Linked DNA regions of Homo sapiens. The protein of the gene in region 2 interacts with the protein of the main gene of each other region in a pairwise test. Each region holds a gene or a part of one and is shown on either strand. Other genes may lie near its edges.

Region 1 (7,848 bases), on a different chromosome or scaffold from region 2:
CAGGCTGGAGTGATGGGACGAAACCAGCAATATTCCTGAGTGCATTCAGATTGGGGAACAACGCCTGGCCAGGGATCAGGGAGACCTTGCTGGATAACAATCTCCTGAAAGGAAGCCCAGGCTGGGGGTGGGGAGGAATTAGTGGAGGCAGCTGGACCCAGCCAAGTCCCTACATCAGCTTCTTCCCTCTGTGGCAAGGCCCTTAGCCTTTCAGGGTCATTCTTCCCATATGTAAAGTGGGGATGATCCAGGCTACTGCCCAGGCATATGGGTAGGATTAAATATGAACACATATATGGATGACTGGCTTCCTGTGTGGCCCATAGTAGGCTCACGGCAAATGCAAGGGAAATATTAATTGTAGAGGCTGGCAAGAGAAGAATGGATATCCTGCGGCAACCTTTCAAGGGCACGTAGCAGGGCTCACAGCTGGGGCGGGCCCATATGTTCTTGACACACCAATGCCAGCTTTCTAAGAGCCTCATTGATTCCTGTGGTATGTAGAGGAGAATGGCCTGGAGGGGTTGGTTCTGGAGGCCATATCCCCTGAAACCCACCGTGAGTTCAGAATGGAGACAAGGAGGTGGTTGCAGCTGGGGGGGACATGAGTGTTTCCTTAAACACCACAAAGGCTGCAGTGTGGGAATGAATGGGGAAGATGCTTTCTTCATTGTTCTGGATGCCTGTGAGGAAAAGTTGTGCAGAGGCACATATGGGTGCATCGTAACTAAGATCTAAACATTGATAATTACATTATAATAATTATGCTGTGAGCATTTCTCGAGGGCCCACTATGCACCCAGCTTGTGCTAAGTGTTTTGTACAACTTATAGAATGCTCACAGTCTGACCTTGACAGATGAGGAATACAAGGTGTAGAAGGCAGCTCTTGAGAGGCAGAGCAGGGATTCACACTCAGCCCCTGGTAGTTCCTGTCTGCTAGCCTGGCTTCAGGTTGGGGAGGGCAGGAGTGACCTCCCAGGTGCTGAGAAGGGACCATCATGGGGTGATTTTTGGTACAGGGATCTCAGGGCCCTGTGGGGCTTCTAGAAGCTACTTTGAGTATGTGCGTGTAATATTTGTATAAAATAAAGCAGAAAGCAAATACAGACAAATAGAATGACTAGTGTGTGATGACCCTATGTAACCATTACCTGGCTTTAGCAATGATTAACATATGGCCAATCTTGTTTCATCTATTACTCCCTCTCTCTTCTTTTCCCTCCTCCTGCTGGATTAATTTTAAAGGCATTCCCCGGCATAATTTTCTCTGTAAATAGTATGTATCGCTAAGAGATAAGGACTCTTTGTTGTTGTTAGGCATAACCACAATACCATTATCACAATTTTTAAAAATTGACCTAATTGTACTGTGTCTTTCTAATTCAGTGAAGCTATTGGTGTATGGCTTGCTTTGCAAAGTATTTGGGGAGGGGAGGCAAAAACTAGTCTGACTCCTGTGACTTGAGACTCACCTGTTCCTTTTGAGGTGGATGAAGAGGAAGAAGAGGAGGGGGATCTAAAACTTGAGACCGCAGATTGGCAGCCCCTTTATTCTGATTGTTCTCAGGGGACTCAGCCGGGAAAGTGAGGCCTATTTATAGGCCTAAGTCTAGACATGGGAAGGAGGCAAAGGAAGGGAATAGGTGACAAGTCAGGGAAAGGGGACAGAAGAGAGAGTGGAGGGAAAGAGAAAATAACAGCAAGTGATCTTGCTGCACACATAGCTCCAGTGGCCCTTCAGGAGCTGGCCGGGACCAGCCCACACTAGCTAATGCTCACAGCTGACACTGACTGAATGTTTCCTGTGCACAGGGCACTGTGCTGAGCTCACGTACCAGTGACCTCGCCCAATGCTCCCAACCATCCCATGAGGCAGGTGATGTTAGGTGTCACACCCATTTTACAGGGGAGGACACTGAGGTTCCAGGGTCCGACATGAAAAGAGCAGTGGTGCCTGGATTCAAACCCAGGTCTGTTTGTCTGGAGTCTGCTTTTTGCAGGCTTTACTCTCTGCCTCCAAGCCTGGTGATGTTCCATGTGGGGGTAGAGAGGCTCATGTTCAAGAAGTACGGCTGTCTTGGCTGCTGGACTATTGGTACATTCCCATGTCTTTAGTACATAGCTCTTCCCCAGGGTCCCCAAGCACCCTGGGCTACCAAGTCTTTGCCTCAGGACTCATCAGGACCCAGCAACTAAAGGTTTCCTGTCTGGCACAATAGGAAGCCTCTAAGACTGTAGACTGTGTCCATTCTGATTGACTGTTAAATGCAGTGACTACTCCCCTGGGTCTGTGTATGGTGACATGTGAATTGTGTGCCTGCCTGTTTCTGTTCGTGGGTGTGTGTGTGTGTGTGTGTGTGTGTGTGTGCGTTTGTACACAATAAGCATTACCAGGAAGGCATGGACCCTGCTGGAAGCATTCCATGGTCACCGTTTTGGAGACTCATCATGCCCTCTGAGAGGCTGGCCAGAGCTGGAACCTGTGCTGGACCTCCAGACTGCAAAGCCTAAGCCACAGCAGCTGAGCTCCCCTATGGGACTCCTTGATTTTTTCCCTTGGGTCTTCATCATCTTCTCCTTCAGCGCTCCCATGATAGAAGGCTGAGTAGTTTCCAGAATGCTTGGTGTGGGCCACCTCATCCACTTCTCATAGGAGCCCCTTGAGTAGGCACAGCAGATGGTTCTAGGCTGGTGGCTCTTGTCCTCCTGGGTGCCTGCTTGCCAAGAGTGCTGGTGAGGTGGGCGGGGCCACCAGCCAGGCCAGTAGGATTGCAATCCTCTCTACACCTGGAGAGAAGTGGCAACGAGGAGCCTAAAAGCCAGGAGACCATCAGGTGCTATCAGACAGGTGCAGACCAGCAAGTGTGCAGCGGAGGACCCAGGGTCCAAGGGGCAGGTTGAGGCCATTATTTAGGTTCAGGAAGATCCTGGTGAATCAGTGCAGGGATCAGTGCAGGGATCTCCCCACTGCTGGTGCTGTACATGAAGGGAGGCCCAGTCCAGAGGCTGTGATCGGGTCAGAGGCCATGCCAGAGTGAACATGAGTATCCAAGAGGCTACCGTATGAGATCCAGGGGCGGGGACCAACTAAGGCTGACAGTGGTGTAAACATGAGAGCTGACCTTTGAATCGCCCTTACTCTATGCCAGACACCATTCAAAGTGCTTTGCACCTCTATGATACTCCTAGTAATGAGAGGAGGAGACAGAATACCAAGATGCTGAACAACCTGCCCAGGGTCACACCGATGGGAGTTGACTGGATCAGGGTGTAAGCTTAGGCTGTCCACTCCACCATTCTGCAGTGAGGTGATGGGGGCTGCGCTACTCTCCTGGGGGCTTCCCAGGGCTCAGCCCCAGCACCCTAGACTCTGCACTTAGAGCTGTTGGCTTGCTCCTGACCCCTTTGCTGCTGGGCAAAATTCCCCAGTGAACCCCTTCTCTGGTCTTTCATTGCTTCAGGTTCTGAGCATGAAGAACAAGGAGGAATGGACTAGAATTAAGGCTCAGTGAGGCTGTGACTTGCCCCAGCTCACTCAGCAAGGTTGTTGGGAGAGGATCCAGGTTTCCCCATTTTTCAAAACCATGCTCTCAGTGCTGCATCCTACCGCTGTGGTATAGGACCCTCTGGGGGTCCAGTGTGTCTGCTGGGTTATCTTGCCTGGAAGTGTGTTTTTGTCATGTTATGCATCCATCTCCCTTTTCTGGGGCCTATGTCCTTCTGCAAAGCCACGCCTTGGTGAGCTGGCACTAACACCGTCTGTCTCTCTGACCCATTTCCAGAGCTCTGGAGCTCAGCAGTGGCAAAGATGAGATCTCCTTGTTGGTGGAACAGGAGTTCCTAAGCCTCACCAAAGAGCACTCGATCCTGGTCGAAGAGAGTTCTGGGGAGCTGGAGGTACCCGGCAGCTCTCCCGAGGGGACCAGAGAGCTGGCTCCCTGCATTCTTGCCCCTCCTCTAGTGGCAGGCAGTAATGAGCGCCCCAGAGCCTCCATCATTGTCGGAGACAAGCTTCTGAAGCAGAAGGTGGCCATGCCCGTTATCAGCAGCAGGCAGGACTGTGATTCTGCCACTTCTACTGTCACAGACATTCTGTGTGCCGCCGAGGTCAAGAGCAGCAAGGGGACAGAGGACAGGGGCCGCATCCTAGGTGACTCCAACTTGCAAGTCAGCAAGCTTCTGTCCCAGTTCCCACTGAAGTCCACTGAGACATCCAAGGTCCCTGACAACAAGAATGTGCTGGACAAGACAAGGGTCACCAAGGACTTCCTACAGGACAACCTGTTCAGTGGCCCTGGACCCAAGGAGCCCACAGGGCTGAGCCCATTTCTGCTGCTGCCTCCCCGACCTCCTCCTGCACGTCCTGACAAGCTCCCTGAGCTCCCTGCTCAGAAGAGGCAGCTCCCAGTGTTTGCCAAGATCTGTTCCAAGCCCAAGGCTGACCCTGCTGTGGAGAGGCACCACTTGATGGGTGAGTGGGGTTGGAACTGGGGTAGAGTGGGCCTGCAAGGAGGAGGTCCTTCCCAGGAAGCCAATCAGGGCTGCAGCATGTACATAAAGCATCTTCATGCAAAGCAAGACAAAGCAGCCTCTCTGGTGGGCACAGCCCCGAGGGACGGGCTGTTTCCAGCCCCCACAGGCTTATTTTGCTGGGTTCCCCTGTGCAGGGCACAGCTTTTGTAAGCAAACCCAGAGGCCCTGATCTCAACATACTTTGAGAAGAGAAATAGGCGCCATGTAGTAATTGGCTTAACTTTGGAATCAAACGGGTGTCCAGAGTACATTGAAGGAAGTGTTTACCCTAGCTGGGTTCAGGGTGAAACTACAGCATGGAGATGCCAAGATGTATAGAAGAGAAATTTGATTGGTAGCTGGGGTCATTTGGCATCTATCTCATGGAGGTACCTTGAGGACATGAGGCCTGGTCCTCCCTCTCTGGGGTATTGGGTAGATGCGTAAATTATCCAGGCATAGTGCAGACTGTTGACTCTGGGATCTGTTTCCTGGGACTTACTTTATTGAGGAGCTCACATTCTTCCCAGGAAAGCCAGCCACCTCCCAAGCTTCTCCTACTTTATGCCCAGGATTCTGTGTGTTGTTCTGATCTAACCAGTCAGACTATATGGTTCCAAGAAGGTAGGCTGATGGCCATGGCCATTGCCTAGAGTCAGCAGTCACTAAGAGAGTGATCATACTCATGTTAGCCAAAAGAACAATTTCCTCTGGGCTATGAGCATGGATGGATAACTGAGAGACACCCGTATTGGGAGGGTCCAAATTAATCTACCTGAGAAAATAAGAGCAAAGTCATCCTGAACATTCTGTGTCCTGGAGCATTGCAGGAAGGCCAAGGAATCAGAGCTGTGGATAGCAAGCTGAACTCTGGGTCCTGGACAGGCTTCTAGGAGCCAGAGGGCTTTAGGATGGGGAGCTGTAGGAGAGAGACGGTTGAGCTCTTCCCAGAGAGGAGACCTTCCTCCTACCTCTTCTCCAGAAGGGACCCATAGATATTTCCCTGTTGGATGGGGCTGCTGGACTGGAGGCAGTTCTGGTCCCACCCACCCCACCCACCATTGGTGCATGTCTGTGTGTACGAATGTGTGAGCAAAAGTGTGCCAAAAGGAGTTTTGAAGGTTTTAGTGTATTTGTTAGAGAAAATGCAAGAGTGGTGTGTCTAAGCATGTCTGTGTACACATTTGTGCATATGTCTGTCATGTATGTACTTGTGTATGTGTAACTAAGTCAAAGGAACAACAGATAGGAGTGTGTCTATGTCTGTGTGCCCAGACCTGGGACGAGGGAGCTTCGTAGATGTTTAAGGCATCTGTAAATATGAGTGGGAAGCTGCAGGTGTGTGTGTCTCTGGGGAAAGGGCTATTATCAGTGGGTACTGTTATTTCAGCTCACAGGCTAGGGGCTGAATTCGGCAACCGGAGGAACTCCTGGAAAAGACTCTAGGGATGTTTTGCTAAAAATGTTGTTTCCTTCTAAATTGGCTCAGGCTAGAGCAGCTCTTTCCTTTGCTGGAATAGTGCTAGGAAGACAGCCTTAGCCCCGAAGCTCAGCCCCCAAGCCGCTGGGCTAGGGGGCCAAAAGCTGGTGGGATCTGGTCTATTATTATCAACAGGTAACACTGAGGCACAGGTCCTTTCTGGCTGCATCCAGACAGATCCCGGTGCCTGCTATTGGGCAGCACAGTGCACAGCCATCTGGTGGGTGGCCAGGTTTCCCACCACTGCTGTGGAGGATCCTGTGATGGTCCCCAAAGTATGTCTGCATTGGGAGAATAAATGCTCAGTCTCTTTAGTGAGAAACCTGTGTCTGCCACCAATCTTGTCCCTGCTCCACACTCTAGCCATATCCAGTGACTCACAATGTCTCCTTGATGCTTCCAGGCCTTTGCCCACAGTTATCCCTGCCTGCCATGCCTTCCTCCCCAATACCCCTGGATGTAAGGCCTCGCTGCAACCCTACTTCCTTCTGGAAGGAACCTTCTCAGACAGAAGCAGCCTCAGCCACCCTGTTCTCCATTTCTTCCCTCTGCCACCTCATGGTGTTCATCTACCTTATCCTGGGGCTATTTCTGGGCATGTCTCTCTTTTTTTCTTGTTATGAGCTCCTGCAGGGCACAGTCTAGCTCTGACTCACAACTGTGTCCCCAGCACTCAGGTCAAGGCCTGGCACTGACAAGTGAGCTGAATCACCTGTGAGTAATAAAACAAAAGTAGAATCCAGAATGAGAGACCAAAGTGTGTGGCTCAGACCACATGTTCTGTAAGAATGTGTGACTCCTTCACTAAGCCATGTGCTCACTGAAGGCAGGAACTGTGTCCACAACATCCTTGTTTTCGCAGCCTGGCACTATGGATGGTTGGAGAGAAGGAATAGTGGAAGGAATGAGGAAAAGTAAGGAAGGAGAGGAAAGAAAAGAAAGGTAATTCGAATAAAGGAATGATGGAAGGAAGGATGAAGGGGTGGATGGATGGAAGGAAGGCAGGAAGATAAAGATGGATAGTCAGACAAATGGATGGACAGATGGATGGATGGATAAGTAGACGGATAGAAGGAAGAAAGGCAAAGATGATGGACAGATGGGTGGATGAATGAACAGATGGATGGATTGATGGATGCATGAGATCGGGGGGCAGGGGCCAGGGAGGGTTTCAGGGAGAGATTGGGATTGTATTTGGCTGAAAGAGAGTCCCCCAAAGTGGTCCAAGCCTCAGGTGTGTGCTGCAGAGGATTCATCATTTAGTCCACAAAAAGGTGCTTCCAGCATCCAGCACTTGGCCTTCCAGAGGCATTGACTCAGTTTCTTTCCTGCTACAGAATGGAGCCCTGGCACCAAGGAGCCAAAAAAGGGTCAAGGGAGCCTCTTTCTCAGCCAGTGGCCCCAGAGCCAGAAGGACGCCTGTGGTGAGGAGGGTTGCTGTGACGCAGTGGGCACCGCATCACTGACCCTGCCGCCCAAGAAACCTACATGTCCAGCCGAGAAGAACTTGCTCTATGAGTTCCTTGGGGCCACCAAGAACCCAAGCGGGCAGCCGAGACTTCGAAACAAAGTGGAAGTGGATGGGCCGGAGCTGAAATGTGAGCTGACCTACCCAGGGAGGGATTGGAGGGGAGGGGGTTGCAGTGACCCTCACAGGCTTCAGGGTGGCTCTGTCACCAAGTGGCTGTCTTATCTACTGCCTTTCTAGAGGTGTCAGTTTTTAAACCCATAAAATGGGGGCAATGACTTTCTCCCCATATCCCTTGTTGGGAATACAGTTGCTAGAGAAGTGTAGTTGGCTTTCAAGGGTCACGTCAGCATTATTAATGGTCACTTCTGAATATAGCCCTGACC
Region 2 (6,974 bases):
GACCACTGAGGGGAAGAGTTCTGAGCTTGACCTCTGTGCTCCACCCCTCTTCCCTATGGGCCAGAATGGTAGGGGCTGGGACCCAAGTCTCCACCTCCCCTCCTGCTCCTGGCCCTCAGCTCTGCCACTGTGACCTGGAGCTGAGCCTCCCTCTGGGAGAAAATCCCTTCCTGCACCGGAGAAACTGACTATGGTGACTCAGCCCCAACAATGCCTGTGGCCAGAGGTGCCCCCTCGGACACTGGGGGTGGGTTTCATATTGGATCAAGGACAGGAAGGGAGGCTGGGTGGAGGCACACGGTGAGATTTGGTGAGAGGCATTAGAGAGTAAGGAGGCCTAAAAGTTTTCATTTCAGCTGCAGTGTGAGCCAAGCTACTTGGCCTCTTTTGGCCTGTTTCCTTTCCAGGTGAGGAGGCTGAGTTCTTGGAGGTATAGCTATGGGGATGTGGAGCATGAACTGTAGGGGCCCGGCCCTGGGAAGGAATGGTGGACAGATAACCCAGTAAGAGAAGCCTGGGCCTGGGCTAGGGCAGTGGCTTCACCCAGAGGGGAGATAAGAGATTCAGATGATGTTTAGGAGGCAAAACTGATAGCACTTGATGGGACTGCTTTGGATGAAGGCGCCAGAGCCTCCCTCAGCTGTCCTTTTTCTGTAACCACAAACCACCAAGTGCCCCTTGGTTTCCCATCTGACAAATCCATCTTTTAAGAAAGCTCAGGGCGCTGGGTTCAGTGGCTCACACTTGTAATCCCAGCACTTTGGGAGGCTGAAGCAGGCAGATCGCTTGAGCCCAAGAGTTCAAGACCAGCTTGGGCAACATGGTGAAAGCCCGCCTCTACAAAAAAATACAAAAATTAGCTGGGAGTGGTGGTGTGCGCCTGTAGTCCCAGCTACTCAGGAGGCTAAGGTGGGAGGATCACTTGAGCCCAGGAGGTGGAGGTTGCAGTGAGCTGAGATTGCGCCACTGCACTCCAGCTGGGTGAGAGACTGTCTCAAAAACAAAAACAAACAAAAACAAAACAAAACAAACTCGGGCCTTGCTTGCTCTGAGATGGGCAGAACATGGGGCTTGGTGCGTGGGCTATGGAGCCAGAACAAGTGCCAAATGTGAGTTCTAACTCTGCCTCTCACCAGCTCTGTACCATCGGCCAAGGTACTTACCCTCCTCAGCTTCCCCATCTAAGATGGTGCTAACAACAGGGCTCACCTCACGTGTGCTGTGAGGACCGAATGCCTTAACAAACATGAGCAGCAGGCACCAGCCACACAATAGATGTCAGCTTTATTGCGCGGATGGCTCAATGGATTTCAACTCTGAATGGCCTCACTGTGCTCCCACATCACACACTTAGGGTGGGTGCTGAAGTTGCCACTTAAAGCTCCCCAGCAGCTGTGAGACCCTTAGGGCAGACCCCTGTCAGATCAGCTGTAAGATGTACCATAGGTTTTTCTTGACTACTGAGAACAAATTTAGCATCAACTTGGGGAGACGCCCAAGGGACTCACTGGCCCAGGACAGTCCTCTGTGCCTCCCTCCCCAAGAACCACTCAGTCTAGTCACCTAAGACTTTTTTTTGGGGGGGAATTTTTTTTTTTAATAGTTATTGAGTGTTCTACAGCTTACAGTAAATACCATAGTTACAAATTCTTGGCTTCAATCTTTCAGAGTGATCACTGTCTGATCTTCAAAACAAAACAAAAACCCAAAAGAATCCAAAACAACAAAACAAAACCAGATTTACACTTCATACACACAGGCAAGGCCATGGGGCTTTCCAATCTTTACACTCCGGACTGTGTTTTGAAAACACCTATAAATTCTTTGATCAAACTACTTGGAAGACACTGGTCAAAGGTTTATTATTATTATTATTATTATTATTATTATTTTAAATTTTATTTCTTTTTAAAATGTGAGTTCCAATAAAATTTAAAAATTAGATTCCAACCTGTAGATTAAAATGAATTAAAAAATACAAAATCATATACAACGCTCTCTTCACAGGGATGTTACATGCCATGAGAACAGGTTTCTCTGTCATGTGATATGAAACAGGGAAGCAGATGCCTTTAAGTCAGGATGGGGACAGGCCCTTGGGCCTTTCAAGATTATTACAGACAACTCCAAGTAGCTAGAGGCCTGGCCTTACCCCCCCTGGGTAAGGAGGAGCTTGAGTCACACCATAGATCCAGACTATCTGGCTGACCCGAGGAGAAGGTCTCTGGGACAGTCTCCTCTCTTTCCCTGACTCTCTTAGGCCTGAGGAGAAAGGCTGGGGTCTGGAGATGCTGGTCTTGCTGGGGTCAGGCCCAAAGCTGATCTCACCCATTTGATTCCTATGGGCCGGTACTTTGCAAAGCTGTTACATCTGTTCTCCTTAGGAAGGAAAATCCCCCTGCTATCAGTGGCTGGAATGGGTAGAGGACCTCTACCACAGCAAGGATATCCAGGGACTATCCATGTGGCCATAGGGAAGCAAGTGCTGTTTTGTCCCTTTCTAGCTTTGTGGCAGCCAGTCCCAACTCCTGTGTGCCTCGGTTGGCCTTTGGGTTGGACTCAACAGCATGCACCACAGAAGATATCCACTGGAGAGACTGAGGGACTGGGACCCAAGTCTGGCTTAGGCAGGGCTGGCCATGGAATGTTGAAGCTGGCCTGCCAGGAATTTTGAAGGCTGGGTCCTGGAACCATATAATGCCTAATTTCAGAAACGAGGAGTTTTCTAGGAAAGGGGCAGATAAGTAAAGGACAAACCCTGCAGCCCCCTTGGCATGCCTGCCTGTGCGCTCAGAGGCTCCGGTGTGGAATCCCATCAGTTAGTCTGGCGTGTTTCTTCAGCTCTGCGGGTGGGTCCCAACTGGCCCACTCTACTACTGCCCCTCTCTGGATTCCCAAGCTTGGCAAGCAGCGGGGGCCGCACAGCCAGTAGTGATGTGGGAGAATACAGGATGGAAAAGCAGACTTCCACGTATTTTCACTTAACTGCAATTGAGGAGGAATTCTGATACAGATGGTGATATATAAGACAAAGTTCACAGGGCCCAGAATGGGGCCCACCCCCTCTGGGCACAGAACAAAGCTGAGGAATTTGATATGGAAGCTCTGAGCCTCGCTTAGTCAGTGCCTCGCTGGGAACCTGGATGAGTCCTATCTGTATGAGGAGCCAAAACTTGGTGACCAAGGGGCCTGTCCTTTTATACTTCATGTGATTCCTTTCTGAAGGCCATCAGAACAAAGCAAGCCCTCCAAAGAAGGACCCCCAGATCTCTGGGAACGGGGTACCTCAAACTTGGAACAATTCGGGTGGCCAGGGGTAAGGATGCTCAGAGTCTGGTTCTGGTCCTCACCCATGGGAAAAGCAAGCCCAGGGACTTCAGTCTGTACGTTTTGTACCAACTCACTGGATCTGGACAGTGGGCAGGCTCTCAGGGATTAGGAAGCCAGGTGTGCAGGCTTACCAAGGACATGGGTCTCCCAATAGAAAGATGCCTCGTGCTGTCCTTGAACATGTCTTCGGTCCTGGGCATTGTGACCCCAAAGTGTTTTGTCCAAGTGAGGCCTTTAGTTGCAAATTCTCATCCTCCTTGTGCTGCCAGTTAGATGTGCCTCTGGGTCCCTCCCCAGGGCTCATTACAGGTCCTGGCCCAAAGCAGTTCATACAAATCTGCTCAGCTCAGAGACTGGGCTTCCCAGCTCTATAAAGTACAGTTAGCCCCTCCCTCCATGCTTGCCAAGAGACCCAGCAGGTGGCAGCAGAAAGAGCAGAGGATTTGAAGAATCACTTCCAAGCTGTGTGACCTTTTAGCAAGTCTCAAGCCTCCTGAGCCTTAGTTTTTTCATCTATAAAATGGAGGACTTTGGCAACCAATGTCAAAGTACTTTGCATACCAAAAACGCTCTGGACAGGTGTGTGTGTCTCTGCTAAATATTCAGGAAAGAGGATATACATTTTAGGGTCATTGCCAGGTAAGAAAGAACAGCAACTGTCCTATCTCATGAGGAAGAAATTAAATATGCATTTTTTTTCAAAACATGGCAAACCATTATGTTTCAGGCTTTCACTATTTGCAGGCAATCCAGCTCCCAGACTCAAACTTCTTGACCCCAGGCCAGTGAGGAGAGGGGGTCAGGTAGAAGTAGAAGAATTCAAAAGGGTTGGCTGGTAACGAGCCATCTGTACCCCTGATCCTGGCCATAGGTGTTGCACTTGGGGAGAGGCAGTGGCATGAGGAGGAGAGAGGGGTTTGCATCCTGGGGCCAGTGCTGTAGCTCACTGTCAGGCGGCTACATCCCTTGTCCTCTCTTGCTTGCCTGCCTTCAATGAGACGGCCCTTCCAGCTCTGACTTTTTGTCTAGCTTGACCACCGTGCCATCTAGAATCTTTGGAGGTATCTACCTATGGTACCTCCCACTAGATCTCTGTGACCTTACCAGTAACTGTGCCCATCCTACCAGAGGCACATGACTGTCCCCGCTCTCCTGGGCTCAGTCCTTTTGCAGTGACTCCCCAAGCTTGGCTAGGCTTGTGGATCTCCATCACAGCAAGAGGCTGAGGCCGGCTGAACTGGGGCTCATACTGAAAAAGGGGTGCTGGACCTGGGCTCTTCCAGACCACAGCCTTTCAGTGCCTTATTTTCACCTTGGGGCCCCCCTTTGCTCTTGAATTACATAGTAGGTGCTAAGATAGGGCACAGAGCACAGATGCTTCAGTACGTGAGCCTGTGTGGGGATCAGATGGAGGGGAACGAGACAGCAGACAGCCTGGGATTCGAGTGGCTCTGTCACTTATTAGCAAGTCACTTGACTTTTCCAAGCCTTGATTTCCTTATGGATCAAATAGGAGAAATAACCTCTATTTCATCGGGTTAAACCAGATAATTTATGTTCAACTGTTCTGTGAACTGTGAGGTCCAGCTGTTAGTTTTACTTACTGGTGTTGAAAGAACAAAAGTTACAAGGTCATTCCTAGGTCTCCTCTTCTTCCTTTCTCCTCTCTGTGGTTCCACCCCAGCCCACATGGAGGCAGCAGGGTTCTGGGAAGCCTAGCGGATACCAGCATGCTGCTCACTGTGGGCCTGTTCCCTTCCATAACCTGTTTCCTCATTTGTCAATTGACTGTAATAACTCTAACCCTGTCCCTCTCAGGGCGAGTACATGAAAGGCCGTGAAGTGCTTTGACCTCTGTGATGCACCTGACAAATCCAAAGGTTTCTATTATTATTATCATTATTATTATTTTGGCATTTTTCAAACACGTATGACATAATCTAGAACAACCTTCACCCACCTTTACAAAACCAAAGAGGGTGGAAGGAGGTATTTGCAAAAAGTGAATTAACACTGGAAAACTTTCTATTGTTTTAAAGTGAAACCTCATCAGCACCCAGAACAGATAATTTAGAACAGCTGAATTTTTTCTTACTGGTCCTAAAGTTCCTTGGAAGCCCAGGAAGGTGGGCCCCCAAACTCCTGGCTCTAGGCCAAGGAGGCTGATGGGCTTTACCCTCCTGGGAATGGCTAGACAGCTTCTGAGCTCCTTCCAACCCAAGGGTTTCCTGATTTTTCCCTCCCTTAGGGAGACATGGGAGGTTGGGGTAAGGATATGTCCAAGTTTGCATGAATTTTAAATGAAAGCAGTTTTTTAAAGTCCCAAATGTTGTCAATGATCCCATTTTTTACAATAAAATGTTCGTGCCCCACCCCCAGAGGGGCTGCTGGCCCAGCCAAGCGCTGGGTGCCGGAGGCTGCTGCTGGGCAATCCAGGCTCCTGGCTGAGACTAGCAGGGACCTCCTCGTCCCAGGGGTCCCTCTTCTCCCAGATGAGCCTGTCTCCTGGGCCTCATCCTCATTCTCCTCTCCTGATGACTCCCACTGTCTTCCTCCTCTTCCTCTCCTCTCGGGATGAGGGGCTACTGTCCTAAAAGCATGGCCTCTCCTTTTCGGCCAGTCCACCTGCTCCTTCTCCTGGAGGTGGAGTCAGGTACAGGACGGAAGTTCCAGATGTCTTCACAGAATTTCCAAATGCTATTTCTTCATTTGCAATTTCTGTTCCTGCCATCCGCCCCCATGTAGCCTCTGCCCAGTCTTCAACCCCCGCCTTTGGAGTCCGTGGAGGAAAAGAGCAGAAACAGGAGCCCAGAGACCATTCCAGACTCACCAGGTATGGGCGCTGCCGACTTAATTTTTACAAAACCAAGCCAATCCGTCCCTAGGTAAATTTTTGTAAGCAAGGTGCCCACTAGGTAGGAAGGCTGCATTTAATGCTAATTTACTGTAAGGTCTAGGGAAGTCCTTTCCGCTTCTCTGGGCCTCAGTTTCCTCATCTGCCAAATAGGGAAATGGATGAGATGATTGCTAAGGTCCCTTCAGTTCCATGAGTCTATGAAATGTTTATTGCTATTGCTTTTCCTTCACTATCCTCACCTTCAGAGCTGCCAGCACCCACCTGGAATGTGGTTCCTTCACTTGGGCCATGAATGGCACAGGTAACCAAGAGCTTGGCCTGCCTGCAAGCTCTATGGTCAGACAGGTGAGTCCTGGCACTGGGAAGGGCAAAAGAAAAGGGAGAGAAATGCCCTAGGTTCCCACTCCAATCAGGAGGAAGCTCCTCATCAGAGTGGGTCCATGACAGCTCAGAGGCTGAAGTCTGGATGACACAGGGCATCCGGCCTTCCAAGGCCTCGGGATGCTGGGATCCTACCACCCTGCAGCCGCTTGGCAGGTCTAAGGACAAAATCACCTTTTGAGGAAGTGCCAGGTCAGTTAACATCACTGTGCAAATCAGAAGGTCCAGGGCCAGATGCTTTGGCCAGAGACCTTTCAAACCAAAGCCATGAGGCAAGCACCGCTCCTCCCTTCTTCCCTCTCCTTCCCCACAATGCCCTCCCTCCCCCCACCCTCCCCCAAATTCTAAAGACTTTTTTCCCCAGGTTCTCAGCCTGGGGTATTAAGCTGCTAATAACACGCCTACA
Region 3 (7,848 bases), on a different chromosome or scaffold from region 2:
GTCCTCTCTCCCAACCTGGAGGACAGGCAGTCATTAAAAATTTGAGTCGGACAGAGAATTCTGCACAAAGCCTTGCATACATTCAACTAGATGAAAGCATTCTTGAGGTGACTACAAGCTCTTACTGTTAGTTCGTAGCACAGCAGAGGTACAACAAGTGCCCAGAAATCACCAGCCACCCACAACTCTAATCGGTGGCCATGGTGCATGCTGGGTGCCGCCCTGGGCAGGGAGGTGGGAGATAAGGTATTAAGGGCTCCTGACACTCCCATGTGAGATTCAACTCACAAAATACAGGTGGTAAGGCTTTCTATATTGGGTAACACGGAGCTTTCAAAACAAGAAAAGAAAACAGCACTTGGCTTCTCCGTATTTCTCCCTTGTGACTCTGAGCGTATTGATGGTGGAGACTGTGAGATTTCTATGCAACTGTTAAAGGTGATCGTCATTTTGGCAAAGTCATTGTAATGTGGAAAAATCACAGAGTTGGGGACTTGGAAGTCTCGGGCCCTTGTCTCAGCTTGACCTTCAGCTAGTAACTTCCCTTTTTGGGTCTCTGTTTCCTCATCTATAAACAGAGCAGCTGCATTCTCTAAGGTTCTACTGTTCTCTGACATTGGTTTTGATGACAGAGAGGTTGAAAACACACGTAGCTGTTTGCTTGGAAAGCAGCTGTTGAAGTGTTTATTTTCGACCAAGAAAGACCAAGCATGGAGGAGGACAGAGGGAGGGAACCAAACAGGTGAGCTGGTCAGGAGAAGGCAGCTGGCCTGTCATCCGCAGCTACACTGCCGTTCTTAGTTGCTACTCTAACCAAACAAACCTTCATTTAAAAATGAGAAACCCCTCCCCTCACAGTCACTCGACTTCCAAATTAAAAACATTTTACAGGTTAGTAAATCTCCAGCTGAGGTGATGTAGCAAAGAACAGCTGTGAAGTAATTTTGATAATGATGAGAATAATAACCACATGGCAAGGTTCAGGGCTTTGCTGTTGCAGCTTCAGTGCTCCTGAATAGATAAAAGTGATTAAATACTCCTGATTATCCCTGACCAATATGTAATGGATTTACAGCCCTTTCAATTAGTCAGTATTTGCTTAGGACTCATTATTTTGTCTTTGGTTAAGTAATCAGTCCAGAGACCGCATGTTCTGTCTAATTCCTCTGAGCCGAGTCAGTGCAGGGCCCTGACCTTTGAAATGGCCATAGCTGCAAGGCAAGAATAACCACTACCACAGCTGCCTCATTGGTTCTCCCAGCTAATCCTGACACCACAGGCCAGATCGATACACCTTAGTTTGCTACTAATGTCCTTACATCAAAATGGCCGATTTAGGAATGTGAATCTATCACTTTTCCCTCCCCACCACTGCTCCACCCCTTGCCCTTTGTAGCTCTGCAAGAAGAGCCCATCAGCAGCCACCACCATAAATAAAAGTGGAACCTTGTCCTGGACCCATGACACTGTAACTAATGTCATTCAGCATGGCAACACACAAGTTGGATAATCAAAGAAGACCTTCAGCTTTCAATGTGCTACTCTATTTTTAAGTATTAGCCTAAATAGAATGGCCTGAAAACAATATTATAGCAAGAAGCAACCTCTGAAATTTTTACTGGTTTCCCAGAATTTCCAAATGAACAGTAAAATATAAGCATGCCTAGTTTATCTGTAAAAATATATTGTAATTTTTTTGTCATAAGAGTCTTAGAGTCAACAGTATGTATCCACACATACAAGGATTGCAAACAGGAAGATAAAGATAAATTGTTACTTTTAAAATGTCTCACATAGTAAAACCGTTTCCAGAAGTGAACATGGTTAGCTTTTAAGATAATGGACTTGAGCAGCTAAAAAAAGAATCTTTAATGTCCACCTTGCAAACAAAGGCATTACAGCACCTATAACCCTTCTGAATTTGTCATATAAATACATGACATATTTGTAAACTGCTTCAGCAATTAAAGCTGCACCTGATATTGTGAGCTTGGACATGCATGTGGCAAGGTGCTTTTTTTTTTTTTTTTTTGGCCTCCTAGAGGAGACAGCTTTCGTTAACAGTGTAATCAGCAACGTTTATGGATTTGTGAGCTCCTTACAGCCATTTCCCTTGGTTGCTGTTGCAGTATCCGAAGTTGCTCTCATACTTTTAGCATAAATAACAAATTTACTTATATATGCTGTTTAGGGTCTTAGATCATTTTAAATAAAGTCCATTCCCAGCTTCTTAAAACAAAAACCTGCTACTTTCTAGAGGGTGCTCTTTGGATGGTAATAGTTGATGAAAAAAAAAACTTTAACTAGTCTGTTAGTCATCAGATTTCAAGAATAAGAAAATAGGCACCTTAGTTTAAAAAAAAATCAGTATGAGACCGTATAACTTGCTAGCAAAACAACAAAAACTATTTTTTTTTTCTCTTTCATCTTGACTTACTGTGAGATGCTGGAAGAGCCATGCTCTCATGATATTTGTTGCTACTTTGGGGAAAATGCCTCTTTTCTTCTGGCGTTTTTTGTCCTTATCCGGATCATCATCGTCACCTGTACCAGGTGAAGCTACACTGTTGTCTAAACCATCCCCTAGTAGAAAGAAATAAAAATACATTAGAGAAAACATCGCAAGGTGCCAACAACAAGTGCAGCTAATGATGAGCTCAGCTAAGCTTGTTGAAAGAAATCCATTAAGCGAGTATATTCTCTTTCATTAAAGTATAATTGGAGACACAAATATGTAAAAGACAAAATTAAACCAGGCCTCTTCAAATGTTAATTTTGTGTGTCTCACACTTGCCCATATCATTAATTCAATTATAACTGTGCACTTGACACAGTGCAGTAGCTCTTTGTCAATTATGGAATCCAATGTGGGAAAACCGCCATCAGAAAACCTATTCAGTGGAAACGCATCCCCATGCCCAGAGTGAACACATACTGTAGGGTAATCAAGTTAAATGTTCTGTAGTCTATATATTCTAGGCTGCCTGCATAGGTGACAGTAACTGTGTCACTGTTCGTTGCACATAACGCACTGCCTGCTCAGCCCCTCCTAGAGCTGTCACCTCCTAAGCACGCACATTCGCACACTTCTCATATGACCCTGCACTCGGCATTTGCATGACATGAAAACTTTTAGCTCTCTGCACCACTGATCATTATCATGAAAAAAAAAAAGATACACATCAAGGTAGGGTGCTCACTTAATCAGAAGTTTCTATCAACATCTTTCTCTTCTGTGCTTTTCTCTGGCATTAATTGTGCATTAGCAAAAATCATTTACTTTTAACAGTCATAGTTATTTTTTCTTGCCCTCTGGCAAAAATGCCTTGAAAGCCTGCCTGGAGGGCATCTAAATTATGTATCTGAAAAACTCTTCTGGCAAGGCATTGCAGGACCCCTACTTTCTTAAAATTCATACGAGCACGTCTTCCTGTTTTTGGGAAGGCATCAATCAAGAGCAGCAATATATGCCATATCCCTACATTAATATTTGAACTAATAACTTTAAAAAAAGGAAAGAAACAAGATCCGACTTGTGGCATAATCAAATGCAAAATAAATGAAGAATACGGGGACAGCACTGGGGCTTTATAGATGGCTGTGTTTTCCTTGCACATCATTAGCCTGGAGCCACACGAAAGAGGAAAACAGAGAAGTGGAGAGTTTATGCTCCCTGCTGGTGTTTAAGAAGCCAGGGTCCTGGAAGGACATCTGGGAATTGCACTGAGATGGGGGTTTTTGTAATTTAAGAATAGACATTCATTAGCAGTAAATGCCATAAATCCCATGCTAAGTAAAAACCTTGTCCAAGAAAGCCTAAAACAATAAACTCTGTGCTCAATGTAGCCTGAGCTGGATGCTCTGTAGCTTTCTGAGGAATACTAGAGATCCATCAGCTCATTCCCAGACCTGCTCCCTCCTCTCGGACTATGCTACAGCACAGCCATCCTGCCCACTGGGCCACTTGCCTTCTAACTTCTGGGTCTGCTCTGTGGGCTTCCCTGTACCTGTTCTTTTCCTTTCTTGCCAAAAAACCCTCAACTTTCTTTGACTAGAGAAGCAGAAAAGCCACAGCAAAGAGCTGGCAGATTAATTTTATTGACATTTCCATTTTCACTGCAATGCGATACCCTCCATCACATGGAAGAGATGACCCTCACTATTTACAGACTGACAGGCCACTTCATTACAACCACCCTGCCCCAAGGCAAAGCAGCTCCCTTCCATCTGCCCAAACACTAGAGCATGACCCCGAAGTTGCTGTTCTCTTTTTCTTTGCCTTCTGTTATGATAAGAAAAAAGGGACCCCATATAGTCAAAGACCGAATCAGTATACAGTGAAACAAAAGGCATTTGACTCTTTCAATACTGGATAATATACAGTCTAGTTTTCATCTGTCACCCTCCCTGCACACCCATGTACACCGGAGTGTCGCCTGGACAAGGAGACACACACACATACACGCACACCCAAGCTCGTGCAGGGACACGTGCACACGCTTTCCACCATGCCAAGGAACTGCTGCAAGGCAAATTCTCACCCACACTAATGGCTTCTGACTGCTCCTTGGCAACCCTAGCATTTTAACCTGGGTGGATGTGCTCTCCAAAATACAGACACTGGAGCGATCTCATCAGCTGTTCATGTGACACAGATGGAGAGTGGCTATTAGGAGCCAGGCAGTGGGCCTTGGGGATCTGAGGTGCTGTTCTGTAGCCTGAGGCAATTTTGAAAAGCAGTACCCGGAGATGAGGAAAAAAAATCCACACTGCAAGTGCAAGTTTGAAGTCAGTCAGTCTGTCTGTCTACCTACCATGGATAAAGATATCTTTGTGTGTAATATGAAATCTATGTAGGCTATCTGAATGTACATTTCAGATAATGTATGTATGGAATAACTCTTCCTTCAGTGTCTTCCAAATATAAAAACACACTCTGTAAACAATGCCTGTGTGTATATATTTCTTTCTAAGCACATATGGTTTCTGTGTATATGTTTAAGCTGAAATTGTCAGGATTTTGTTAAAATCTCATTTAGCTTTTTTTGATAGATTTTTGAATGCACTTATTTTAAAAGGTTAATGGCTTAATTGAAGGAAGTTCAATGAAAAAAGTCATTTGCCTTTTTAACCCAATCAATGACCTTAAAAATGAGAGACAGCATTTCCACAGTGCATCTTTTCTTTCTTAAAAGCAAAGAGGGCTGGTAACACCTTCGAACTTTATGATTCACTATATTTAGTGCAAGAAAAAATATAGCTAGATTGAGCATCCTTTGATGACTGACTTAAACTGGAGAAGACAGGAGCATCACATAAATTTTAATATAAAGCAACCCGTTGTATATAAATGTAAAATATTTGAATTTAGATCCAGTGTAACAAATAATTATAAACAATAATGTGTCTAGTTTTGTATTAATGACTACATACTAGACACAAAATTTTAAACTAATATATGTTTATACCTCTATAAAAAGAGGAATTTTCCTCTCCCAAACACAACAATAAATACAATTGTTTTTTCCTCCAATGGACTGTGGACCAAATCCAGCACAGAGAACTAACAACAGCATAACGAAAATTTTTGAAAGACAACTGCGTGAACTGCAACCTAAAATAAAATTTTGCAGCTGATGCTAGAGTTAGTAACTCAACATGGATATTGGTGTTTTTTTTTTTTTGTTTTAAGGCTGTGTATGTGTGTGTGTGTGTGTGTGGTTGTGTGTATAAGATAGTTGGCAATCCTTGGCACATGTGCCAAATGAGTTTATGTGCTGAAAAAGGTATGTATACCAGCACAAATGCACGTGCCAAATGAGGTAAGGAGATAGCATCTGAAGTTAGGATTCAAAATTGTGGAATCCTTGCGGGCAGTTAACTGTTTCTTGCTTATCTTTTGATTATGAGAAGATACCTCCATGCCTGACTCAGAACACATAACCAGTGATTGTTGGTTGGGTGAGTAAATGACTGAACTTATCAATGAGCTTATGCAAGGGCCCTCCCCACTTTTTGCCAACCCCCACGGTGGGGCAACTGCACACACTATATACCTAAAGGGTGAAGGTCTTGTTCCTCTGGAACAGCTGAGTGGGTTACGTATGTGCACACAGTAACTTCTAAACATGCCAGGAACAGAGCTTCTTTGAAGAGCTGAGTACCCACAGGGCTTTTTTGCAGAGCTAAACCAAAGGCCATTCCATCAGCATTGCCACCTCTGATGATGAAAGGCTATATAAAGAAATACTGGGCATGCTTCTTTTGAAAGGTTGCTAATCCCTTGACCAAGGGCATAGTCTAAGTTTTGGGTAAACATACTCAAAATAAATGTGCATTAGTGAAACATATTGTGTGTGACCATGGAAAGGAAGACTCAAGGCCTGTGGACAGATAAATCGGAAGTGGATTAAATGATCAGAGGAGATTGTTAAAAACACAGGTCCCCAGGCCTCATCCCAGACCTACTGATTCAAAATGTCCTAGGGCGGGAAAAAGGAATTTGTAATTTCAACAATTCCTTGGGTTTGCTTATGCAATCAGAGTATCACTGATGCTTTAACTGGCTTTGGGAAGCCACTGACTAGATTATCTAAATTGAAATGAGATGCAGCCTCAGGAACAGGTAGGTAATTAAAATCCTACTTTACTCCCATGAATGAGGTTAGCAGCCACAGTGAGTAACTGCAATCTGGCCTGGGCCTTATTCACTGTGGGAAAGCCATGGTGTTCTAAATCCCCATCCTAGTCTTCTGGTAGTAAGGGTTAAACAGAAAGAAAGAAGCTATAGAACATTGGCTCTGTGCATTGGCACTAGCTAAAAAATTGTGAGAAATGCAAATTCTCAGTCTTAGCTGAGACCTACTGAATCTGAAACTCTAGGTGTGGGGCCCTGTTAATCATCCCTGCAGGTGGGTCTGATGCCCACTCTAGCTCGAGAACCACTGCCATAAAGCACAGAGAACATCCCCTTGGTTTGCTGTCCTCCTTTGTTGCTGTCTGAAGGCCTGAATCTAATCCCTGGGTCCTCCTTCTGTCTTAAGACTCTGAAGCATTTTGAGAGCATCTCTAGCTGGATTTACACCTATGCTCTCAAGGAAGTCACGCATGCTTTCCTTAGCTGAGCAGATTATGCTCAGAACACAACATTGCTCTGGTAGGTAGCTCCAGCATACACCTACTTAAAAGAGCAATAATGAGAGTGTCTAACTGCAGGAAGCTAAATCCTGGGATACCATCGGCATCTGGGTGTAGGCAAATATCCATATCCATAGTTGTGTATCCACTGAATCAAGGAAGGACGTCGGCACACTATGAGAGGATCCTCAGATGATTGATTCTAAATTCTAGTTCTAGAATTGATTCTAAATTCTAAGTTCTAGACCAGGCTTAATAGTTAAATATGTTCATACAAAATATATGTGCACCTGGGATTACAAAAAGATTTAAAAAAAGCTTAAAAAAAAGAAAAGAAAATTCTCATTCATAAAATTCATGGTCATAAAAACTACCTAGGCAGGCTTGGCATGGTGGCTCATGCCTGTAATCCCAGCACTTTGAGAGGCCTGTTTGGGAGGATTGCTAGAGCTTGGGAGTTTGAGACCAACCTGGGCAACATAGTGAGACCCTCTCTCTACAAAAAATTAGCCAGGCATGGTGGTGAGCACCGCAGATTGAGGTGGGAGGATGGCTTGATCCCAAGAGTTCGAGGCTGCAGTGGGCAGTGATTGCACCACTGCACTCTCGCCTGGGCAGCGGAGTAAGACCCTATCTCAAAAAGAAAGGAAAAAGTCAACCATCCAGGCAAAAAGATTCATCTTTTGGCATATTGCTTTATTCCATTTAGCC
Region 4 (6,974 bases), on a different chromosome or scaffold from region 2:
CTGCAGTGAGCCATGATTGCGCCACTGCACTCCAGCCTGGGCAACAGAGCAAGACCCTGCCCCGCCGCCTGAAAGAAAGAAAAAAGAAAGAGAAAGGAAGAGAAAGAAAGGAAAAGAAAAAGGAAACATACGAGGCTATGGGGCCGTGTACGGGGGCCAGGCTGTGGCAGAAGCATCCTGGCGTGGCCTTCTCCAGCCCCATCCTGGTTGGGTAAGGTGTCGCCGTGGGTCTTCGTGTCACAGCTTCAAGGACAGACCCAACTCTGGTATCACAAACTTAACAGGTAATGGAGTTTCCTAAAGTGTGCTCTGCAGGAGTGCTGGAAGGGCCAGCATGGAAGGACCCCAGGGAGGGAGATTTCTTTGCTCCACAGCATCCCCAAGCCTCACGAGGCCTCTCCCCTCCAAGTCTCTATGTGCATCGTTCTCCAGATGTTGGAGCATCCTGCAGGGGCCAGCCCAGCCTGTCAGGGGCAGAGACCCTGCACTGGCCCCCTCGAGAGTGGACCCCTGGGCTGGCTTATCTGCTCCAGTGCAGTGAGGATCAGCTGGAGCTCCGACCTGACTCACATCTGGATGCGCAGTGAGGGGCCCGTTGGGGCCGTGATACTGGGAGGAAGCCGGGCTCTGTGCTCTTGCTCCAAGTGAGTTGACCAGGGAGCCGAAGTTAAGGTGGCCTGGGAGCCACGTCCTCCCACCTAGCGGCTGGGCTCTCACAGCCACTAGAAACCCATCAGCCTTTCCCCTGGGTCTATGCGGGGCTCTTCAGCCCTCCTGGGAGCTCAGTGGCTGGGATGCTGCTTTACAGACAGTGCACGGCTCTGCCATCTGACAGCTCCCAGAGGGTTCTGGGGGTGACTGTAAAGAGTGGTGCTGGCCCCGAACCTTTCCTGTTCCCCTGGATTTAGTTCCCAGCAGGTGGTGAGGAACTGAACATTTTGTCCCATAGTGGTGGGAGAGAGGGCTGGCCACATGGGTCCAGGCCACCCCCTCAGCCTCCACAGCCTGCCCCGCACCCAGCCACAGGAACAGCAGAGCAGCTCCCCCATCCAGGTAAGCGCCCCCACCACAGCCCCATCACAAAGGAATAGCCTCCTGGTGTAGTGGGAGGTGAGGAGCTTTTTTTGTTTTCCTTTTATTTATTTTAGGGACAGGGTCTTGCTCTGTTGCCAAGTTAAGTGCAGTGGTATGATCATGAGCTCACTGCAGCCTTGACATGGTGGTAAAGCCATCCTCCCGCCTCAGCCTTTCGAGTAGCTGGGACTACAGGTGTGTGCCACCATGCCCAGACGCCCAGCTAATGTTTGTATTTTTTGTAGAGATGGGGGTCTCACTATGTTGCCCAGGCTGGCCTCAAGCAATCCTCCCACCTGAGCCCCGCAAAGTACTCGGATTACAGGTGTGAGTCACCGCGCCTGGCCGGGAGCTTTAATTTTTCCTACTTGTTAACAGCGTTATGGGGCTGGAAGGAGGCTCTCAGATTTCCCTGCCCTCCTCACATCCCCCAACCCTCCCTGGGCGTGGGGGTGTCAAGCATGAGTCAGGCTGAGCCTGACTCTGAAGCTGTTCCCAGCTCTTTAGTCTAAACTTCAAATCTTCAACCCTGTTCCCTAATCCAACACATTCCCCAAATGAAGGGACTGGACAGTGAGATATCGGGAAACCCCATGAAAATAGATGCATAATAAAGGTGAAAATCATTTAAAATGTTCCCATTTTTTTTTTTTTTCAAAACAGTCTTGCTCTGTCACCGAGGCTGGAGTGCAGTGGCGTGATCTTGGCTCACTGCAACCTCCGCCTCCCAGGTTCAAGCAATTCTCCCACCTTAGCCTCCCGAGTAGCTGGGATTACGGCTGTGAGTCACCACACCCGGCTAATTTTTGTAGTTTTTGTAGAGACGGGTTTTCACCGTGTTGGCCAGGCTGGTCTCGAACTCCTGGCATCAAGTGATCCGCCCACCTCAGCCTCCCAAAGTGTTAGGATTACAGGTGTGAGCCACTGTGCCCGGCCCCCAGTATTTTTTAAGCTCAAATGATCCCATGTCCCCAAGACTGTGACAAACTAAATAACCAAAAAAGTGTGGCCACGGTCCAGGTGGAAGGGGGCTGCCTGGAGGTACGTTCCCATCAAAACCTGCTCCTGGGCAGGGCTCACACTGCTCACAGCATCAGGGGTCAGCCATCTTCTCTTGAAACCCCGTGAGTTGCAGGAGGCCCTGTTCTGTGCTCCTCATTTCAATCCCGGGATCAGTCAAGTCTGGAGCCAAGGAGGCGGTTCACACGGGTCTTCCCTGGAAGGAGAGGGCGATCCGCAGCAGTTCCTGGCCCAGCTCTTGCTGCCTCCCTCCAGGGCCAAACTCAGCCGACAGCTCCCGGAAAGTGACGCAGACGCGGCGGGCCTCGATGTGTCTGCGGTGGATGGCATGCTTCCACTGGTGCCGTGCCGCCCCGGTGAGGACCAGCAGGGAGCGGGCGGGTAAGGGGATGGCCACCTCCACCTCCTGGCATAGCACCGACCGGCTGGGTGCTATCACGCTGTCCACCAAGGCCTCCGGGGCAGCCGACGGGGCCGAGCAGAGGAGCAGGCTCCCGGGCGCCTCCCGACACATGGACAGCACGGTGGGGGACAGGAGGTTGAGGCTGACCAGCCGCTCCCCCCACAGCCAGGCGTCGTCCAGGTGGGGGTCAATGGCAGAGCCCCGCTCGGGGCAGTAGTCCAGGTTGCACTGCTCGACGGGCCGGAAGCCCTCCAGCCCCGGGTAGAGGCCCATCCTCCGCACCACCTCCCGGCTGAAGCTGGGGAGGCCGCAGAAGCCCTCGGTCTTTAGCTTCTGTTTCCGAAAGTTGACTTTGGGGCCATAGTCCTGAAGGATGAAGACAAAGAGGACATGAGGTGTCTGAGTTTACGAAGATGTCTACCACAGACTAGGTGGGAAGAATTCAGTCATAGTGACCCAGGCAAGCAAAAGCCCCCTGGCTTCATGGAGGTGAAGCAGGAGGAGGCAGACTCAAGGAGACAGAAGTGACAGCAAATGGCCGGGCATGGTGGTGCATGCCTGTAATCCCAGCGCTTTGGAAGGCTGAGGCGGAGGGAGCTCTTGAGGCCAGGAGTTTGAGACCAGTCTGGGCAACAAAGTGAGACCTCCTCTCTACAAGAAATTTAAAAATTAGGCTGGGCATGGTGGCTCACGCCTATCATCCTAACACTTTGGGAGGCCCAGGCAGGTGGATCGTTTGAGCCCAGGAGTTCCAGACCAGCCTGGGCAACACAGCAAAACTCTGTCTCTAGTAACAAAACAAAAATTAGACAGATGTGGTGGCACAGGCCTTAGTTCCAGCTACTTAGGAGGCTGAGGTGAGAGGACTGTTGGAGCTCAGGAGGTTGAGGCTGCGGTGAGTGGAGACTGAGCCACCGTACTCCAGCTTGGGAGACAGAATGAGACACCCTGTCTCAAAATAATAATAATAATAATTATCTGGGCTTGGTGGCACATGCCTTAGTTTCAGCTACTCAGGAGGCTGAGGTAGGAGGATCGCTAGAGCCTGGGGGGTCAAGGCTGCGGTGAGCCAATATCACATATTGCACTCCAGTCTGGGCGACAGAGCGAGACCCTGTCTCAAAAAAAAAAAAAAAACCTGTACACAAATGTTCACAACAGCCAAAAAGTGACAACAACGCCAATGTCCATCGACAGATGAATGAGGAAATGAAATGTACCAACATCCAACAGGATGTCACAAAAGAATGGGGCTGGGCGCGGTGGCTCACGCCTGTAATCCCAGCACTTTGGGAGGCTGAGGCGGGCGGATCACTTGTCAGGAGTTCGAGACCAGCCTGGTCAACATGGTGAAACCCCGTCTCCACTAACAGTACAAGAATTAGCTGGGCATGGTGGTGGGCACCTGTAGTCCCAGCTACTTGGGAGGCTGAGCCAGAAGAATGGCTTGAACCCGGGAAGCAGAGGTTGCAGTGAGTTCAGGTCATGCCACTGTACTCCAGCCTGGGTGGCAGAGCGAGACTCTGTCTCAAAAAAAAAAAAAAAAAAAACCTACAATGAAGGGAGAGGGGGCACCCGGGGATGTTTGGACACAGGTGGGGAAGGAGTTGGAGGGAGCGGCGGGCCCGGGGAGGGGGAAGGTGGGAATGCGTGTGAGGAGACAGGACACGGATGGTGACAATGGGAGGTGGGGGCGCCTGCAGCTTGGGAGAATGGGGTGCCTTCACCACCACCAAGCCAGCTACAGAGGGGCAGAGAGCCCAGGAGCGCATATCACAGGGAGATGGGGTGCCCAGGTGCACCTCTGCCCATCGGACACACGTCCTGCAGCGAGTCTGGCTGCCCACAGCCCCAAGGTCTGGGGAACTCGCCCACTACCAACCCTGGAGGTTTGAGGGGTGTGGCTGCAAGGAGGGGGATGGCCCCCAGCAGTAGGGCTGTCTCCTCAGCGCAGCCCAGCAACCCCCATGAGCTCAGGGCCGGTCTACCTGCTTCCTCCGTCCAGACTGGGAGAGCTTCCAGGGGTCACGGTCCATGAGCCGCACCAACTCGGCTTCTTCCTCCCGGGTCACAAAGTCCTCGATCAGCATCACTCCTGGGAAGGGGAAGGCCCAGCCCTCAAAGTCAGACTCCTCTGTGCCCACGGCCCAGCCGGTGTCGGAGCAGTAAATGAAACGGTATGTTTTCTGCAAAAGAAACACAAGTCCACAGGCTGGGCAACACAGCGAGACCCGGTCCCTACGAAAAGTTAAAACAGGCCAGGTGCGGTGGCTCACGCCTGTAATTCCAGCACTTTGGGAGGCCGAGGTGGGTGGATCACCTGAGGTCAGGAGTTCAAGACCAGCCTGGCCAACATGGTGAAACCCCATCTCTACTAAAAATACAAAAATTAGCCAGGCATGGTGGCAGGTGCCTGTAATCCCAGCTACTCAGGAGGCTGAAGCTGGAGAATTGCTTAAACCCAGAAGGCAGAGGTTGCAGTGAGCCAAGATGGCACCACTGCACTCCAGCCTGGGCGACAGAGTGAGACTCAAAAAAAAAAAAAAAGTTTAAATAAAAATTAGCCGGGTGTGGCAGAGCGCACTTGTCATTTCAGCTACTCAGGAGGCTGAGGCGGGAGGATCATTTGAGCCCAGGAGGTTGAGGCTACAGTGAGCCATGGTCGCGCTACTGCACTCCAGCCTGGACAACAAAGCAAGACCCTGTCTCAAAAAAAAAAAAAGAAAAAAAAAAAAGGAAAGACACATCCTGGAGCCATGGCAGCCCCTGGCACTTGTGTGCCCTCAGGAGACCCTCTGATGGCTCATTCCTCCCCTCAGGACACTGTGGAAGGCAGCTGGAGTCTAGGGGGAGGTGCAGGCAGAGCCTCTGCCCCAGGCTGACCGGGGAAGGCCCGCAGCCCTCTTGAGCTAACACGAATTTGATTGGTTTCCTTTCTCACTTTCCTCCCCTGTAAAAGAGAAGGGTTTGTACAACATGTTTTTCCTTCTCCATTTTACAAAGGAGGCTCAGCAAAGTTAAGGAACCAGCCCGAGGCTGGACAGCACCTCCTGCACTCCCATCTCCTCAGCTGCTTCCAGGAGGCCCCAAACTGCCTGACTACCTTGAATCTGTGCACCCTAATCTCTTTAGGTCTTTGCTGATGCCACCCCGGTGTCCCAGGGGTTGGCCCGTGCCTATCACCAGCGTGAGGGTCACCTAGGAGGGCAGCCAACTTCCCTACAGAGCTGAGCGTTCAGTTGAGCTCCTCAGTGTCCCAACCTCCCTTCTCCTCACTCTTGTCCTCAGGGCACCTTTCCAGACCCAGCATCACCCCTCAATCCTCATACCCTGGGCTGTCACTCAACTCCCACCCCATGTCCCTCTCTGCTCTGCCACCAACCCCGAGGCCTGGCGGTACTCTAAGGGTTCCCCCATGCTAAAGAAAGTCTAGAAACCAGGCCAGGCACGGTGGCTCACACCTGTAATCCCAACACTTTGGGAGGCCAAGGTGGACTGATCACCTGGGGTCAGGAGTTCAAGACCAGCCTGGCCAACATGGCAAAACCCCGTCTCTATTAAAAATACAAAAACTAGCCGGGCGTCGTGGTGCATGCCTGTAATCCCAGCTACTCAGGTGGCTGAGGCAGGAGAATCCCTTGAACCCGGGAGGTGGAGATTGCAGTGAGCCAAGATCGTGCTAGTGGACACCAGCCTGGGTGACACAGTGAGACCCCATCTTGAAAATAATAATAATACTTTTTGTTTGTTTGTTTGTTTGTTTGAGATGGAGTCTCGCTCTGTCACCAGAACTGGAGTGCAGTGGCACGATCTCGGCTCACTGCAACCTCTACCTCCTGGGTTCAAGCGATTCTCCTGCCTCAACCTCCCGAGTAGCTGGGACTACAGGTGCGCGCCACCATGCCCAGCTAATTTTTTTCTTGTATTTTAGTAGAGACGAGGTTTCACCATGTTGACCAGGATGGTCTTGAACTCCTGACCTTGTGATCCTCCCGCCTTGGCCTCCCAAAGTGCTGGGATTACAGGCGTGAACCACCATGCCCAGCCAATAGTAAATTTTTAAAAAAGAGTTTCGCCAATGAAATAGCCAGTATTTGCATCTGTGGCACTGAACATTTTACATGGATTATCTAGTTTCATCCCCAGGACAGCCCCAAGAGGAAGGTACCATAACTATCATGGGCAGGAGGTGTGGAGGTTCTGGCCGGAGTCACCCAGTGAGGACTTCGGAGGCCACCAGAACTCAGCCCTGGGCTCTGTGGCCTGTCTCCTCTTCCTCTTCCATCTCCAGGCTCCTCACACCCTGGGCTGCCACTCACTGTGGGCCGCTGTCTTTCTCTGTTCTTCCCTCCAGGGACCTCAGCCCCTTCCAATGCTTTACTTCCAGCCACCGACTCCAGCTCAGACCCCTCCTGAGATTGGCACTATCTCCTCCTGCTCCTGGGGCCCTCCCACGGGAAACATTAAAACTGGGAGT

The links.
Region 1: the proteins of FAM168A (region 2) and C1orf94 interact in binary tests that used the Homo sapiens proteins (3 or more experiments, as listed by UniProt).
Region 3: the proteins of FAM168A (region 2) and MEIS2 interact in binary tests that used the Homo sapiens proteins (3 or more experiments, as listed by UniProt).
Region 4: the proteins of FAM168A (region 2) and ALKBH4 interact in binary tests that used the Homo sapiens proteins (3 or more experiments, as listed by UniProt).

Annotation. Positions count from the first base shown.
Region 1 is NC_000001.11:34,193,441-34,201,288, forward strand, and holds part of C1orf94 (uncharacterized protein C1orf94), read left to right. Parts: intron 1-3,784; coding exon 3,785-4,473; intron 4,474-7,331; coding exon 7,332-7,592; intron 7,593-7,848.
Region 2 is NC_000011.10:73,399,222-73,406,195, forward strand, and holds the end of FAM168A (protein FAM168A), read right to left. Parts: 3' UTR 1,266-6,974; downstream 1-1,265.
Region 3 is NC_000015.10:37,034,377-37,042,224, forward strand, and holds part of MEIS2 (homeobox protein Meis2), read right to left. Parts: intron 2,584-7,848; coding exon 2,438-2,583; intron 1-2,437. UniProt on the Homo sapiens protein: Involved in transcriptional regulation. Binds to HOX or PBX proteins to form dimers, or to a DNA-bound dimer of PBX and HOX proteins and thought to have a role in stabilization of the homeoprotein-DNA complex.
Region 4 is NC_000007.14:102,455,119-102,462,092, forward strand, and holds the end of ALKBH4 (alpha-ketoglutarate-dependent dioxygenase alkB homolog 4), read right to left. Parts: intron 4,684-6,974; coding exon 4,486-4,683; intron 2,864-4,485; coding exon 2,276-2,863; 3' UTR 1,120-2,275; downstream 1-1,119. UniProt on the Homo sapiens protein: Dioxygenase that mediates demethylation of actin monomethylated at 'Lys-84' (K84me1), thereby acting as a regulator of actomyosin-processes.